4 separate regions of the Homo sapiens genome follow, and all the other regions are reported to be linked to region 3. The links are microRNA targets in miRTarBase. Many come from high-throughput screens and were not tested one by one. Region 3 holds a microRNA gene; each other region holds the end of a gene's coding sequence.
Evidence for each region. The annotated mature microRNA hsa-miR-4797-3p reads UCUCAGUAAGUGGCACUCUGU and lies in region 3 at 1,781-1,801, opposite strand. An mRNA with a match to its seed (bases 2 to 7 or 8) in the 3' UTR can be bound and repressed. Matches are read on the target gene's strand: a 7mer-m8 pairs with bases 2 to 8, a 7mer-A1 pairs with bases 2 to 7 and ends in A, and an 8mer does both.

Region 1 (4,000 bases), not on the chromosome of region 3:
CTTAAGCTGGTGGCAGATTAGGAGAAAGCAGGAAAATTTCTTCATGGGAATACTGGACCAGTATTAACTAGCACAGCTTTATGCTTTTTCCAACCATCTGTCACCTTTGGAAACAGTATATCAGATGAAGTGCAGTAATGACCATTATGCTGTAAAACATTTAATGTCCTTTTAAAATTTTGTTTATATAGAGCTGGGGCTTTGTGATCATGAAAATTCTCTGTTATACCATGGGTCATTATAATATGAAGGCAAAGAGGGTACTTTGCTTCAATTAGGAGAAACAGTGCACATCTTGCAAAATAGAAGAGACAAACCTTAGAGTGTTTGCTTAGTAATAGCTATTTCAAGACAATTTCTGAACTGTATCTACTGTTTGTTGCTAATGAAAGTTACATATGTTAATAATTTTAGGAATTCGAGAGGAGAAAACAGGAGAGAGAAGAAGCCCAAAGGCAGTACAAAAAGAAGAAAATGGAAGTGTTTAAAATACTGAACAAAAAGACTAAAAAGGGCCAACCAAACTTGAATGTACAAATGGAGTACCTTCTTCAAAAAATACAAGAAAAATGTTAAACATTTTGTTCCTACAGGTTAAAATATCTGCTGCCTATTAGGTTCTTCTGTGACATGTGCCTCCCAGCAGTGAACTAAATTTGTCGACATAAACTGGATTGCTAAACTATGCTAAATATAAGATGTTCACATATTTTTATTATGGTAAAAAATTTTCTAAATATGTTCTACATGTTTCTTATTTATTTGCCTCTGAAGGAAGGTTGGCCTGAAGAACTGAAAGAACCTCTTATTTTGCAAGACAGGCCCAAGCATGTAATACTTTTGTACCATATGAGATTTATATGAAATAAATTTTTTAAAAATAAGGAATCAGAGCTATCAATGAAGCATTTCAATGAAATATTTCAATTTAGTAAACAGTTACGTTGTTTTAAAATTTATTTTAATGATGAGGGAGGCAAAGACTCCTCTTGGACTTTTTATTTATTTTAAGTACATGTTACAGGGTGATGGGTGCTGAAATAAACTGCCCTCACCATATAACAAAGCGACCTTCACAAAGCAGTGAACTCAAAGTCTGATATTTATAAACATTCCCTTAAATGGATGTACATGGCTTGTTAGTCTAAGGTCTTTTAAATAATGATGGAAACCCCACAGTGTCACAGCAAGAATTAAGCTTTCCAGTTCCTATGGACCCTATACTTTAAGAACATTATCTCTGTCTCCCTTGTTGGTACCCTTGTGAGCTGAGATAAGCCACTGGGATAACTGCTTCTCATGCTTTGCAAATTGCAGAAGAATGAGAAAGGCTTGAAATATATATATAGTCATTGTAAGCAAAAAGGGCTGACCAATAATACTTGCCAAATATTGAATAATAAAATTTTATAAATGATAGCAAATACAGTCTGAAATTGCATTAAGATTTTAGGGAGCTCTTTCAGTCTACTAATTTATTCTGCATTTCAAGATCAGTAGAAAGTGCTTAGATAACACTGAACTTAATCTTCATTGCATAGAAAAGCAATGCTTTAGAAATTTGCATTGCACTATATTGCATTTAAAGTAAGCAGCCCAGAAAGCCTAAATTTGGCTACATTGGTGAAGACACATCACATCATGATGGAGGATAAATTATTTCAGTAAATTGCTTTACAATTTTTGTGCATTTTCACTTCTAGACACTTAATCATGACAAAACATGGAAGGAGATCTAGTCCTTTTGAGAGACAAGTGAAAGTCAAATTATATTCATTTTAACGACTTTGTTAAAAGCTACTTTATGCAAAACTTATATTAAGGAGTTACTCTTTAAAATTCCAAAGTTCTTGTAGAGGAATAAATGCCAAGTAATGGTATAATGGGGGAAAAAGTAATCAGTGACAATCAGATAAAGCAAAAGGTTAAGATTTTAGTGTTATCAATGAAGCACCCAGGAAGCTTTTCCTTTTTCGTTTTTTTTTTTTTTATTATCTTGGTGGTGGACAGTCTCCCGCCCACGCTGCAGTGCAGTGGTGTGATCATGGCTCACAGCAGCCTCAAACTCCTGGGCTCAAGTTATCCTGCTCAGCCTCACGAGTAGCTGGGACTACATGTACGTGCCAACACCTGGCTAACATTTTCTGTAGAGATGAGGTCTTGCCAAGTTCAGCCTTGCCTGGGCTGGTTTTGAACTGGCCTCAGGGATCCTTATGGCTCAACCTTGGCCGTACAAAGTGCTGAGATTATAGGTGTGAGCCACTGTGCCTGGCCTATAGGCTTCTTAAGAGGCATGTTTGAGGACCCTACACTAAGGAATTTGGATACTGTAGATGGGCTTAGTAATGGATGTTTTAACAGGCAACCCCAGTGATTCTGCTGGGTTGCTCCTCGCCACACTTAAAAAATGTTGGACCAGGGCCTCAGAGAAGAAAGAGGTTTTGTTTGGTTTAAGAAATCAGAGAAAGTTTCATGTGTGCAATAGCATTTAAGGAAAGCCTTCGAGGTTAAAAAGATTAGAAGTGTAAGAGCATGAGGAAAGTTACAAAGGGAAGCAAGCTTGGTATTATTTAAATATCTAATAAGTAGTTAGAATATATTATTATTGATGGAGGTAATAGTTCCTATCGGTTCCCTATTGTTTCCTTCCATGTGGAGAAGACACCATCATCCAAACACTCATGGTATCTTTACTTCTTGTCCCACTTGTTCCACCCAGGGGAGGTAAAGTAATAAATGATGTCTGGGAGGAGGACCTGGGCTGTCAGCAGAGTGCATGTACTCTTAATTGCTATTCTAATACTATAAGTGAAGAACAGGCTATATTGATAAATGTTAGAAGGGGGATGGATATTTTTGGAAAATATATATAGAAATTTGTGCTATATGGGTTAGTACATCAAGAAATAAAAGAGGAATAAAATTTGAAGGAGCACAACATAGAAAGAGAGAGGCTTAATTGTGGCCATAGCTTATGGTTTCTGGTTTCAGACCTTAATGTATACGTAGGGAGCTTTGATCTTGGTAGTTTGTAGAGGCTTCTATTAGGGCTATTAATTTGACTTTGTAAGTGTGAAGTAGGCTTTTAGTTGCAGTTTTGGCAAGAGGCTTTAAGACTTAAGGCACGTGGGATTTTGACCTAAAAGTTTAGGATATCTTTGTCCAGAGAAATTGGTAATTTCTATAGAGACAATGTGCAATACTGGGCTTTAAGCACATATGCGCAGGCCTCAATGAAGCAGAGTTTGAGTGAGGGTGATGGAGACATATTGGCTTCAGCAAAGACAGAGAATCTGGAAGTGGGGCTCACCCAAATGCTGGCCTCATGGATGTCCTCACCAGATGCCAGCCCAAGGTGAGGCTTAGCAAGCTACTGTAGTGGTGCTGGCATCAACAAAGGCACTGGCATGTGCAAGTGGTCTCATGCAGGCTACTGCAGCTTGACCTTGGCCTACATTAAATATGCATGTGTGAGCAGCAAAGGCCTCACTCATCAGATGCTGCTAACTCGACACCAGAAAACAATTTTATTCGTGGCAAGGATTTAATGATATAAGAAGAAATATTCATAGCTATGCTAGATGTTAATGACTGTATCAGTATTTGCTACTTTTAAAGACATGTGCCTTGGTTGCAATATAAAGTTCTAGAAAAGCTCAAGGTCTAAATTGTTCTGAGAGTCATTGAAATGCTGTGTAAAAGAGAAAATTTTGAATCTGAAGATATTTGAACATACTGGGAAAAGATCAGGTCTCCTTTGACTTGGTGATTGGGACTGGACCACTCCAAATTCTATACTTGGTAAGATAGCATCAGTGTTTCAGATGTCACTTTCTGAAAGAGAAGATAGAGTACCATGCTAAATGCATGGTGAAAAGTTTAACTTGTTGCTGACAAATTTCTTCCAACTTAGTTTAAGTGTGCAGCTCATGTGACTGGCATTCTGATAAGGCTAAAGCCATCACCGGTTATCTTCCTTCCTACTGATTCATGAGTTCCT
Region 2 (4,000 bases), not on the chromosome of region 3:
CCAGCAGATCAATTATTTTTCTTATTGGAAAAGCATTAGGCAGAGAGAGACAAGGAGAGGGCAGTGGGCAGAGCCCCTCTTCTTTACCCCCAGCTTTTTTTCCTTTCTTTTGGAAACAGTCTGTCCCCAGCCTCGCTCACTAAATGCCCTGCTGCACTTGTAAACAAAGCTGCAAAGGCCAGTTCCTAGGATTACAGGCCTGGTGGGGGGGATTCTACAGGGCTCCCCAGCCCCTGAAAGGCCCCAGTTTCCAAACAGACCCTAGCCCCCACCCCCACCCCACCTCCCAAGGTGAAGCCAAACAAAAACAATCCCCCAACTTTTCTGCCCTTGTCTGCCTTCTGCTCTAGCCTTTTCCATAGAGGGGAGGCGAACTGAGGAGATCAGAGAGGGGAGTTTAGAGTAGGAAGAGTGGCAAAGGAAAACCAAGCCCCCATCCAAACGTAACCAGACTGGGGTTTTCTTCTGTCCAGCTCCGGGGAGGCGCAGTGGACGGCAAACTTACAGCCGGTATCAGACCTTGGAACTAGAAAAGGAGTTTCTCTTTAATCCTTATTTGACACGAAAACGTCGGATTGAAGTCTCTCATGCCCTGGGACTGACCGAGAGACAAGTGAAGATCTGGTTCCAGAACCGAAGGATGAAGTGGAAAAAGGAGAACAACAAGGATAAACTGCCGGGAGCCCGAGATGAGGAGAAGGTGGAGGAAGAAGGAAATGAGGAAGAGGAGAAAGAAGAGGAGGAAAAGGAAGAAAACAAGGACTAAGCAAAAAAGAAAGACCCCCCCCCCCTTAGCAACTCCCTTGAAGTTTCGTTTTATGGTAGCAGATAAATTGAGAAGTTTACGACTGTCATTTGCTTTTATAGAGAATAGAATGACACTCACAACTCTAACTACCTGTCAGATACTTGCAGCTCTGGTTTTATTACCTTTGGACTTCCCCCACTCTTTATTTGTTTGGGGGCTGGAGGGGGGAGACGGAGAAACAGTGAAAAGTTCGGACTCTCTGTCTCACTCCTTGCCCCACACACACTTGTCCCTGCCCCCACCCTTCTGAGTCCTTCCTGGATTTTAAGGTCTGAGACCTGGCCTCCGTGCTCCTCGGTCTGTCTCTCACCACACTCCCACCTCCCTGCTTCTCTGGTATTTATTTTAGAGGGGAGCCCCCTCGAAATGCAGAAAAGGACTTGTGGTTTTGTTTTTATGCTAAGGCTAGTGTACTAGATGTACTTTTTCTAAAAAGGAAAGGACAGAAAAAAATGAAGAAAGGAAAGGAAGACAAATGTAAAGAAATAAGGAAAAAAGCAAGGAATATCCCCTCCCCCTCCCCCTCCCCCTCCCCAGGGCTCCCTGCTTAGAAAAACCCCCTTGACTTTCTCTAGGAACCTGATGGAAACCTGAAGGAGATGTGGGTCTTTCCCCTCCCCCCATTTCCAGAAGGGTAGATAGGAGCCTGCAGTCGCCTCTAAAATCCTACCTAACCATCCCATGGTCACTCGGGCCCATGCCTTCCTCTCCTTCGCTGTTTGATTTCTATTCTGTTGGGCCCGCCTTCCTCTGAGCTGCATTAGTGTTAGTGCTCAGAAATCACCATAATCACGAAAATAATAATAATAAATCTTTAACATACTACCTAAAGGGAACCTGCAATAATCTTGAAAAAGAAAAAGAGAAAAATTTTAAAATCCTGCTATAGGAGAAAAAAAGAGAAAAAAATAAAAATCAAAAAAAAAAAAAAGAAAGAAAGAAACCTCCAGCGTATTTTATCACTACCTATAGAAAGAAATCCTGCTTTGAGAGTATTTGTAATGCGGTTTTGTTGTCGTTTGTTGCTGCTTATTTCACTAAGAAAACCCAACAACTGAGACTGCCTAGCCCGCCGGTCCTGTGCGCTTTTATTGTGCTTCTAACCCCAGTAGAGTAGAACTAAATTGCACTGAATGTATAGTTAACTCTGTCTTGAATTCTCTGTTTATGCAATGTGCTCGAAAGAAAAAAATGTTAAAAATATATCTATAATAATAATTTTTTGTCATTTGTCTTTATGTCCAGCTATGAATGTAGATTTTGTGTCCCGACAGCCCTGTTCCTGGTCCAAGTACTTTGTATTGTATACGTGAGTCATAATAATAAAAAGAAGAAGAAAAATAATAGAAGCTGGAATGACTTGCTTTTTCTCCACAGCTCTTCCCTATTCTCTACCTTCTCTCTCCTTATCCCCCTGTCCAACTCTCTGGAAAAGGTCTGCTTCACTGCTCTGGCTTTGGGGTTCAGAAACTCACGTGGAGAGAAGCCTGGGAATTGAGAAAGCATGCTGGCCTGGGAGGGCAGGTGAAAGGGGTGAGGGGTTGAGAGGAGGAAGAAAAGGAGCAGTCCATTGGTTGAGAGAGTAAGGAGTCTATAGGTATGCCCTTGGGGGAATCTTGGCTCCAAACAAAGTGGGTTTCCAGACGCCAGGATCCCAATGGGAAGAAAGATTTCCTCACTCATCCACCCTCCTCCTCCTCAGCCTTGGGCTGGGCCCAGACAAAGAATCTGCCCTATGCAACTATGACTTTTTCTTCCAGGGTCTGGGGCTGAGGATGAGATAGTGGGATTCCTTCTGATCTCCGCATGCCCCTTGTGGCCAGACCTTAGCACCCAGCACCCAGCACTAGAATAATGAACCGGGTGGGGATGTGTGAGGCTCAGGGCAACTGGCTGGCCTGTCTGCAGGGCTTGCCTGAAGATGGGGGATGCTAAGAATGGAGGGTGAGGAAGCTTAAGCCTGAAGGAGAGGAGAAAGGAAGGGGAAAGTAAGTGAGCTCGTAGGCAACCAGCCTGAGCCCACATCCTGAAATTCACATTCAATCCTCTGCACAGGAAGATTGTCATCACTGTCATTCAGCCCGCTTGCATCCACTCCAACTTCTGTTCAGACGGTTTAAAGTCCACTCCCCACTTCACCTTGGCAATTGGTCAGCTTACCCAGCCCCCATAGTGTGGGCCATTGGCCTGGAGGATGGGCCTGCTGAGTGGACATCCTGCCACCCCAGTCACAGCGGGGTAAGAGGGCGTCTTTATTGGTATCTTCATTCCCCAAAATGAAGAATTGAAGGCTCAGGGACCCAGGGGGTAGAAGGGTCTCTCACTTCTCTCTGGAGAGTCCTGGACTTAAAAATTCTGTTTATGCCAATAAGATTCTGGTCAAATAATCCCAAATTCCAGAGATACAAGTCTTCTGACTCAGTCAGGAGAGGGGAAAAGGGAGGGGAGGGATCTTCTGGTCTTAAAAACCAGACCCCCGAAGGCTGAAATATTTTTGAGGCCAGATTTTCTTTCTTTCTTTTTCTCTTCTCTTCTCTTCTCTTCTCTTCTCTTCTCTTCTCTTCTCTTCTCTTCTCTTCTTTCTCTCTCTCTCTCTCTCTCTCTCTCTCTCTCTCTCTCTCTCTCTCTCTCTGTCCTCCCCACCCCTCATCTGTCTAGCTCCTGGTCAATGATTTTCCCAGACCTAGGCCCAGGCCAACTCTTGTTTTGTGGAATTTCACCCAGGTCCCAGTCACTGGTCCCCACGCAAACCGGGCCTGAAAATCGGGCCTGAGTAGAGAATTGAGTCGGGCTTCCTTCACAGGGGGACTCCTGCAGTCCGAGAAAGGCTGTGAATTGGAAGCACAGGCTGCAGGCAGCTGGGGCAGCTTTGAGCAGGAGCTCCGGGAAATCTTCTCTAACCTGGGGTCCCTGCTGTGAGCAGCGGCACCAGCCAGGTAACCTGTTCTCAGTGGGAGACACCGGCTACCCACCAGGGAAGCCAGAAAAGAGGCCATTTCGCTCAGACCTCAGGCCTTCCCACAGGCGTGTCCTCCATACTCCGAGGGATGGCTGAGGTCCCGTTTCGTTTTTAAACGTGGAATTATGATTGCTATTAATAAAAATATCTGGCCCAGTAGCCTAGCGGAATGAACCCAGCATTAAATGGCTCCGAAGGGCCTCGCCGCCTTTTCCCCACACCAAATGTGCCAT
Region 3 (4,634 bases):
TATTTCTGGGTAAATATCCAAAAGAACTGAAAGCAGGGTCTTGAAGAAATATTTGCACACTCACATTCCTAACAGCATTATTCACAACAGCCAGGAGGAGGAAGCAACCCAACTGTCCATCAATGGATGGCTAGATAAAATGCGGTATATACATACAACGGAATATTATTCAGCCTGAAAAAGGAAGAAAATCCTGTCAACAACTACAACATGAATGAACCTTGCGGACTCTACACTGAGTGAAATAAGCCAGTCGCAAAAAGACAAATACTTCTATGAGGTTTCTAACATGATCAAATTCACTGAAACAGAAAGCAGCACGTTGGTCACAAGGGGCTGGGAAGTGAGAGGAAAGGGGAGCAGTTGTTTATTCGGTATAGGATTTCAGTTTTGCAAGACGAAAGTGTTCTGAAGATTTGTTTCACAACAATATGAATACATTTCACACTCCTGAACTGTACATTTAAAGATGGTGAAGATGGCAAAGGGGTCATACTTTTGAAACTAGTATCTACAAATAAAGATAGGGTAATGTCCTTTTATAAGGGCTAGTGAAACTATTAGATTTTAATAGAGTGGCAACAAATGAACTGGTAACTAAACTCATAAATGGACAGTATTATTACATAATCCACTTTCATTCTGAAATCTCTGCAGAAATAAAACACTGCATTAGAATAAGCTTATTTATTGCAGACAAAATATACAAATCACATGACTCAACTTACTCAAGTCTCTAAAGCCAGCCTAATCTTGGGCCCCAGTTTTTCTCATGCACAAGGAAAGCAGATGAGTTCTCTGATCCCGTAAGAAATAACTGCAGGGGTTTAGACTGGTATGAAGTCTCTATGGACTAGCAGTGTCATCTCAGATCCCACACACCTTAGAATCATGAATGAACTGAAACCACTATGGACCTGAATACCTGGGCTCTGATTATAATCAAACCATATCCCGTCTACTCAAAAAATTTTCAAACTTAAGCACAAAAAACTGGAATACAAAAGCAAGTTTTCAAATTGCTCTCACCTAAATCACAGAGTGAAATTAAGCAGACTTTATCTTCCTTTATACAAAAATAATCACCAGGTATGTTTTGGGAGTAAATTTTAAACAAATGTGCAGTTCATGGACTTTTGTTAAGATACAACTTTAAATATTTAGCTCTAAAGAAACAATACATCAGCTGAAATTCAAAATTAGTAAAAACTTTTCTGCTTTCAATAATTTTTAAATCTTTAAGCCATCCTTCAAAGATACTACCAAGTATCTATCAGCACTAGACCAATGATTTCTATATTACATTGCGAGTATCAATTATAAAATGCACTATTTCATGTGTCAGAACACAGAAACACTGTCAATTAAAAATGACATATACCAGATATTGAAATATTTAACAGTTGGTATTTTAGAACAAATATAATACAGTACGTACATGCTTGTCCCTCTGAATAATCCAAAAGTACAGGAACCTAATCTATGTATCAACTACAGGGGGGGACACCAAACCCCTAGAGACTCAAACTTTTTTAAATGCATGAAAAGTCAATATAAACTACCAGTTCAAAGAATCAATCAATAAATGATCAATGCAGACTGAAAATCCAAAGACACTTGGCACCCCAAACAGATAACTAGATAACTCACTGCGGCCTAAACAAGTGATTTCCAAATTAAGGAAGTGAAAAATCTAAGCACTCAATGACTCCAAACAGCTCAGGTGGCCAAGACCCCTGTTCTCCTTTAATCCAGTGGTCCACAGGTACCAACTCAGAAGACAGAGTGCCACTTACTGAGAGAAAAAACCTTTCAGTAAGTGGCACTCTGTCTTCTGAGTCGGATTTTTCTGCAAACACTATGGACACAATGAACTGGTTTAGCTTAGGGCAGTTTACAAGCTTAAAGTACATTTATGACACTGTTTCAAAACAATGGTAGAGTTGCAAAATACAAAGAAAATCTTATCAGACTAAACATTTTCAGACTAAGTATTAAAAGTTATTCAGGAAACACAAGAGAATGTATTTATTCCGTAGTATCAACAATTATAGCATGGAAACACACAGAACCTCTATTAAACGTTATCTATTTCAAAACTCCTAAAATCTATTACTTGTCTTACACCAAAATGTGATATAGTACCACATCCTATAGAACATTAAATATAAGTAAATTTAAATGTCAAAGTAAATTCACAACCAATGAAATTAGAAGATTCACAAATATAAACTTAGTAATTAGGAAGCTAACTCTAGGCCAGACGCGGTGGCTCACGCCTGTAATCCCAACATTTTGGGAGGCCGAGGTGGGTGGATCACGAGGTCAGGAGATCGAGACCATCCTGGCTTACACAGTGAAACCCCGTCTTTACTAAAAATACAATACAAAAAATAAAAAATTAGCCGGACGTGGTGGTGGGCACCTTTGGTCCCAGCTACTCAGGAGGCTGAGGCAGGAGAATGGCGTGAACCTGGCAGGCGGAGCTTGCAGTGAGCGGAGATCTCGCCACTGCACTCCAGCCTGGGTGACAGAGTGAGACTCTGCCTCAAAAAAAAAAAAAAAAAAAAAGAGAAGAAAGCTAACTCTATCAAAGTTCAATTGTACGTAAGAATAGACACATTCAAAACAGGCAAGGCAGAATAGGTCAAAAATGTCTCTGAACACAGCAAACCCATCCCCAATCTAGACAGAAATATAAATGTAGATTCTGTTATTTCACTAACGATTTAATTTTCTTAAGTTACAGCCATCACACAAAGAAAAGTCTGCAGTCTATCTATCTGCCTATCTATACATATATGTATATATATATCTCTATACTGTTGCGAAAAAACATACTTTTTTTGCAACAGTAACTGCACCAAATTACTAGGCTCAATGTTGATTTAGAAAACAAATAACTAAAAAATGCTTTTTGCTGTTTTTCCAGAGGAATCCAATTTGATCATCCATTCGGACCTTAAACCTCAGAAATTCAAATGTGTAAAAAATGTCCATCAATGTAAACAAAAATGGCAAAATGTGAATTTCTGGAGCTGGGTAACAGTTAAAAGGCAGTTCATTACACTGTGCTATGTATCCTTATGTTTTTAAAAGTCTATTAAAATGTTACATTTTTCAAAATTGTTCAGGTGCATCAAGTGGTCTTTACAAAAATCTTTCATTCTAAAACCGTAGAGAGCATCCATTTATCAATAATGTACCTGACAGGACACACTGACTTGAAAGTAGTCTTCAAATCACACCAACAATTATTCTATCAACAGATAGATGTAAGGCCATATCTGACTGGAAGTTACTGAAGAAATAAATGTAATATAATTAAGTATATGTCTTCTTATGTTAAAATGTTATATAGTTGATAACTAAAACAAAAAAAAAAAACTTCATTCTTAGAATTGGAAGAGACAAACTTTCTAGTTCGGTGGTTTGCAAACTTTTTGAGGTACCTGGACAAAAGAGCCAGACAAGTCACCTTGTTTTATACATAGGAGATTATACACAAAATATGAGATGATGCTTTTAAAAATGATTTATCTACTTAAAAAAGGCTTTAAACCCATTCTGTCATTTCAACAGCTACATTCTACAGCTAATATGGTGGCATAGAAAAGATTAAATGACTTGGGATATATCATTCAATTAGTGGCAAAAGAACTCAGGACTCTTATTTTTCCAGTTCTTTCAAACAATGCACCACTTCAAATTAAGTTACAATTAAGAATAAAACTTTCCATTTTCTTGCCTGTAAAATACGGTTACTAGACAAGATCATCTCTAAGATTATTTTCCAGGTCTAAAATTCTGACTCCATGAATGCCAAGCTCAAACAGAAATCTACATTAAGGGAATGAATGTTCTTCAACACAGCAGAACCCTTCACACGCTTTCAATGACTTCAGAGACATGCCAGTCAAATACAGAAACAAGCTCACAGTAACTCAGTCATACCTTTTAGGTCCTTAAACATCTGTGCAACATCTTTTAATAGTTAATGCTATTAAGATGTGAAACAATGTTCTCAAAAGCCACTGAAATAATCCTGAAAGTTTTTTGGTTACTAGTTATTTTAAGAAAGGACACTGGCCTATGAAAAACACACAACTCACTGAAGATGTTCAAGTTACCGAATGCCTCAGAGAATTAAGTACATCATTTTCTTAAGTTTAAAATAAATGAATTGAGAGGAGCATAAAGCCTAGCTGGCATAATAGTTACGAAGTTTTAATTCCCACCTATTAAAGCCTGAAAGAGGTTGCTCTGAAATATGTTAATAACCCGTTCTATGGAACTTCTGAGCTGTCTGTCTTCAGTTTGGCTTAGTTTTGAACGATATTCCTCCAAAAGGTGCAATGCTCTCTGGGTATCTGAGAAGAAAAAGCAGAGCCTGATTAAAACTCTCTATTTACAAAAAAAGTATCACATACTAGTGCAAATAATTCTGCATGACATCTAAATAGTTCCGCAAATCCTTCAGGTCAATTGATGTCACTATGTTCATGTACACATATTCCTTAGAATGACCAAAAAATAAAAAAAAAAATTAAAGAAATACAAGAAAAATTTAAACATATATCACATTAGAAAACGGAGGAGAGTGAGCAGTTTGGAATAAATGTGTACTGGTAGTT
Region 4 (4,000 bases), not on the chromosome of region 3:
ATCAATCCTTGGATTAACTTTTTTTAGTCAGGGAAGGGCACGGTATTAATTCTGAAATAAGCTTCAGAAAAAAATGTAAGAAGCAGGCATGAGATAGCCTTAATATACACTAGAAAGCAGTTCTATATATCTTACCTATTTCCTTTAAAAATCTTATGTACATAAATCTTGAAATTGATTTACATGCCAAACTATTTTATCTTGAATATTTCCAAACATAAATCTGTGTGATGGTCATTTCATGTTAAAATGTGTATCTTAATGAGTTACAAATATTCTTCTAAAATGAGGAAAACCCACAGCAAGACAAGAAATCCACTTCTACTTCTAAAAATTGTGTAGCTGTGCTAACACATGCGTCTCTTGTAATAAATGTGATATGAGTTCAAAGGAAGACACAGAACACTAGCTATAATTTCAAAGATCAAGTTTCCTTAAAATATTACAACAGGGGAGTAGAAAATATGCACGAAGGAAACATCCCCTAGTTAAGTGCCAGACAAGCACTGATGTTCATGTCCCACCAGCAGAACACTGTCAGGAAGAGGAGAGTGGCATTTGATGAGCCTCCCACTGACCTGGCTGCAAGCTGTCAGATGCCATGTCATAGCATTTCCTCTATTTAGATACTTTCTAAGTGCCTCAAGTTTTTCAAAGGGGAAAAAGTAGAGCTTGATGGGGGTGGGGTAGCATTTCAATCTGCATGTTTGAAAACATGTCTTCATTTTCATCTATTGCCATTCTATGGAAACGCAGCCGCTTGGGCATTATCTAGCAGGTGGGACTCCACACATGCTACATGCCTCCTGCTTCCTCAGTACCTGCACCCCACCTTCACGTTTGGTATCTTTGCAAAGGCAATTCATTCTTTCAGCTTCAGTGCTTCATGGTTACTTGAGCACACAAGCAGGATCAAAACACTTAGGAACTTTCAAAAGGTTCCTCAATGACTGGGTGCCGTTGAATAAAGCAGCAAATGAAAGGGAACAGGAACAGTTCTGACACATGCACAGGGCACTGTGCTGACGCCCACGGCTCGCTGTCGCGGAGCCATGCCCTGATTTTGAAAGTCTGAAGCCTTTCCAGTGGACACTGCAGGGGTAAACGCCTCTGAACTTCACAGAGGTAAAGGAAAATACCACTAAAGTTTTCTCTTAAAAATATCTGAACTTGAAATTAATTTACATGCCAAACTGTTTTATCTTAAATATTTTCAAACGAAAAAAATTAATCACATTTCCTAACTTCATCTTTTATTTATAGTTATTCCAAAGCAGATATGCTATGATGAGATAGTTCTAAAAATACAGTTCTTTATCCTCAAAACCCTGGTTATACATGAGGCCTAGAAATCTCTTTTCTAGAATTTTTAAAACAACCAGTAAAATATAAAGATCAACCTGTACCCCACAAAGATTCAAGTAAAATTATGTCTTTTCAAAACCTTATATTTTCAAGGAATGTTCTGCAAAAAAGCAGCTTTTATAATTAGGAAGTAAATCGAAATAATACATAAAATGTCTTGTGTTTGCTAATAAATTGAGAAAAGACACAAAATTGAATTATTGATATTTTCTTTTTCTTTAACCAAAATAAAAGTAGGCTCTAGATTCACCTGTTAAGGCCTTAAACAGTCAATTAACCAATACAATTCACCAAACTAGCTTTCTATACAATTAGGAATTAAACAACCCCTTTTAGAGATGTCCTGAGATGACATTTAATGCTAAAATCAAAATAAATAACCCAGCAAGAACAAAAGTTTAAAATTCCAATAATTTCCACTTTGGGGATATTTTTTCACCAAAATTAATCAACATTTCTAAAATATTTCAATACAAAATTATAAAATAAAAAGTGCATTAAAAGCAGAACCTTTAAAACTCTAGCACAATTACAGTTATTCTGCATATGCGGCTACAGCCAGGTTTACACACTGACATTCAAGGAAGGAAACCTCCGGATTGGTAAGAAGTCCAGTATCACAAGCATAAGTCAAATAAGGCTTTTCTTTTTCTTAAAAAAATATACAATACACAAAGCAGTTTGGAAAAGAAGTAATATTATTTAACAATTTTCTGACTTAAATATCTTCACATAACAAAAGTTTTCATATCACCGTCAATATTACTTATATACATATGCCAAAAGTGAACAACAACAACAAAAAAATCAAAAGATGCCCTTTCAAAATAACAGTAAAATGTCTATTTCTTTAGGAATCTGAAATGAGCTCCTCTCTTAATATACAAAGTCCATACAATATTTATAATAAAACTACTCTCTTCTGAAACCAAGGAGGCAACGAGAGAAAATAAAGGCAATTATTTTTCAGGAAAAAAAAATAAAACCCAGCTTTATATGACAATGAAAAAGATATCCATTTATGAATAAAATGAATACAATACTGATCTGAAGTGCTCGTGGGGAGGTGAAACTGACGCTCTTTCTGCAATTAGGACTAGTACTTATATTTACAAAATATACTGTTCAGCCACACAGAGGCCCATATATCTATGTACATATGTATTTATATATAGAACATATAAATAATTTCAAAGGAAAAATTAACATGAAGTAAAGAACCTTCCATCTTTGGAATGCTGTAGGAATGGCGTGCACGCACTCTGCCCAGCACGGGTGGGATTTGGTTTGGGACATGTTTTATGTGGCACCATTGACGATACTAAAGAATTCCCTGAAATCAAAAATACATCTGTTTATGCACGAAGAGAAAGTCATGGGGTTTTTACGGATTCGTGGCCTTAAGCTACAGATATGCTTCTTATTTGCTGGGGTGGACAGGGCCACCGTTGCTTGCTCCTTGCAGACGGTTCTGTGGTTTCCTACCTGCGATGTATGGCTTGTGCTTCTGCAATTATGTAACCCTGGACCTGAACACAGATTGATGCGGTAAGTGTGTCGCCAGCCCGTGTGGACAGCTGAATCCTTATTGGTGGGTCAGGTTTACTCGAGTCCCCATGTTGACGCCCCAGATACTGCATTCTTGTAACTAATGATTAAACATTTGTCATGGAGAGAATTGGTCCAGCCATCTCTCAAGGTATCAGTTATATTAACTTATGGTAGACTGAAAAGAGTCCATTTTGACTAATTTTCAAAATGCACAGAGAAAAGAGTGGAAAAAACTTCCCTGTGTGTTGTAACACTTTTTTTTCTGAACTTCATGCCTCAATCTTACGCTTGCTTTGTAAGCTATGCTTCTTATAACCAGAAACATGAAGGAAAATCTGACATACTTTTTCAATGTTAGCGTTTTTGTCTTTGCTAATACAAAGAAATCACACTACAATGATAGTAAGACCCAGTTAATTGCTTCGTGAACTAGACACACTAGCCACGGAGGAGACTGAGGAGGAAACTGCCTACAGTAGTACCTGAGTTCAGTGATTTGTAGACAAAAGAGAACAATGCGGTGACACTTTTCCTAGTTTTTTTTTCCTATGAGTCTCTGAAAGACAATGATTCTTTAGATAATTTTATAGATAAAAAACTATTGTAGCATTTTTAACACTTGAAGCTTTAAAACGGAGATTCCAAGTGCTTTGCTCTTCACAAAACGTAACTTCAGAAACATTCTTAAAGGTGTACTTCCAACTCGCATCAGAAGACGTGGGTGAGGGCCTGCCACTCGCCGGCGGCCTCCTGCACCACCTCCTCCAGGTGGAGGGTCCGGCTCAGCTCCTCCCCGTCCTGCTCCGGGTGACCTGCAGACTCCTGCAGAGCTCCTGTTATGCAGACAAAGAAAACACAAGCAGCCTCAGACCTTCCAGAGCACAAAATGATTCCTATTTAAATAAAGACTTTCTGGTAGAAAGAGACAAGGAATTTCTAAAGTAATTTGCTTTTCATTCCAGTGAAAAAAGAGTAATTTGAGCTGCAGGTGAAACACCTCTGCCGGCAGGACAGTAGTTACTGTTAGGAGTATGAACGCACACACAGCACTGGTGATATGAGTGCACTCCTATGACAGCTACAT

Region 1: miRTarBase lists CCDC59 as a target of hsa-miR-4797-3p. The part of its 3' UTR that is shown has no 7-base or 8-base seed match.
Region 2: the mRNA of HOXC8 is a reported target of hsa-miR-4797-3p. Seed matches in the 3' UTR shown: 7mer-A1 at 1,862-1,868.
Region 4: the mRNA of ZNF236 is a reported target of hsa-miR-4797-3p. Seed matches in the 3' UTR shown: 7mer-m8 at 814-820.

The regions. Positions count from the first base shown.
Region 1 is chr12:82,349,727-82,353,726 of GRCh38, reverse strand. It overlaps CCDC59 (coiled-coil domain containing 59), which reads left to right. Exons shown (of 4, transcript NM_014167.5): 4 at 415-1,424. The coding sequence ends at 576. Among named protein-coding and RNA genes, the nearest start is that of CCDC59, 6.7 kb to the left of the region's middle.
Region 2 is chr12:54,010,616-54,014,615 of GRCh38, forward strand. It overlaps HOXC8 (homeobox C8), which reads left to right. Exons shown (of 2, transcript NM_022658.4): 2 at 474-2,154. The coding sequence ends at 766. Among named protein-coding and RNA genes, the nearest start is that of HOXC8, 3.6 kb to the left of the region's middle.
Region 3 is chr3:197,292,108-197,296,741 of GRCh38, forward strand. MIR4797 (microRNA 4797) reads right to left here and starts at 1,841; the gene lies at 1,771-1,841. DLG1 (discs large MAGUK scaffold protein 1) reads right to left here. Exons shown (of 25, transcript NM_001366207.1): 3 at 4,239-4,370.
Region 4 is chr18:76,967,964-76,971,963 of GRCh38, reverse strand. It overlaps ZNF236 (zinc finger protein 236), which reads right to left. Exons shown (of 31, transcript NM_001306089.2): 31 at 1-3,749. The coding sequence ends at 3,625. Among named protein-coding and RNA genes, the nearest start is that of MBP-AS1, 10 kb to the left of the region's middle.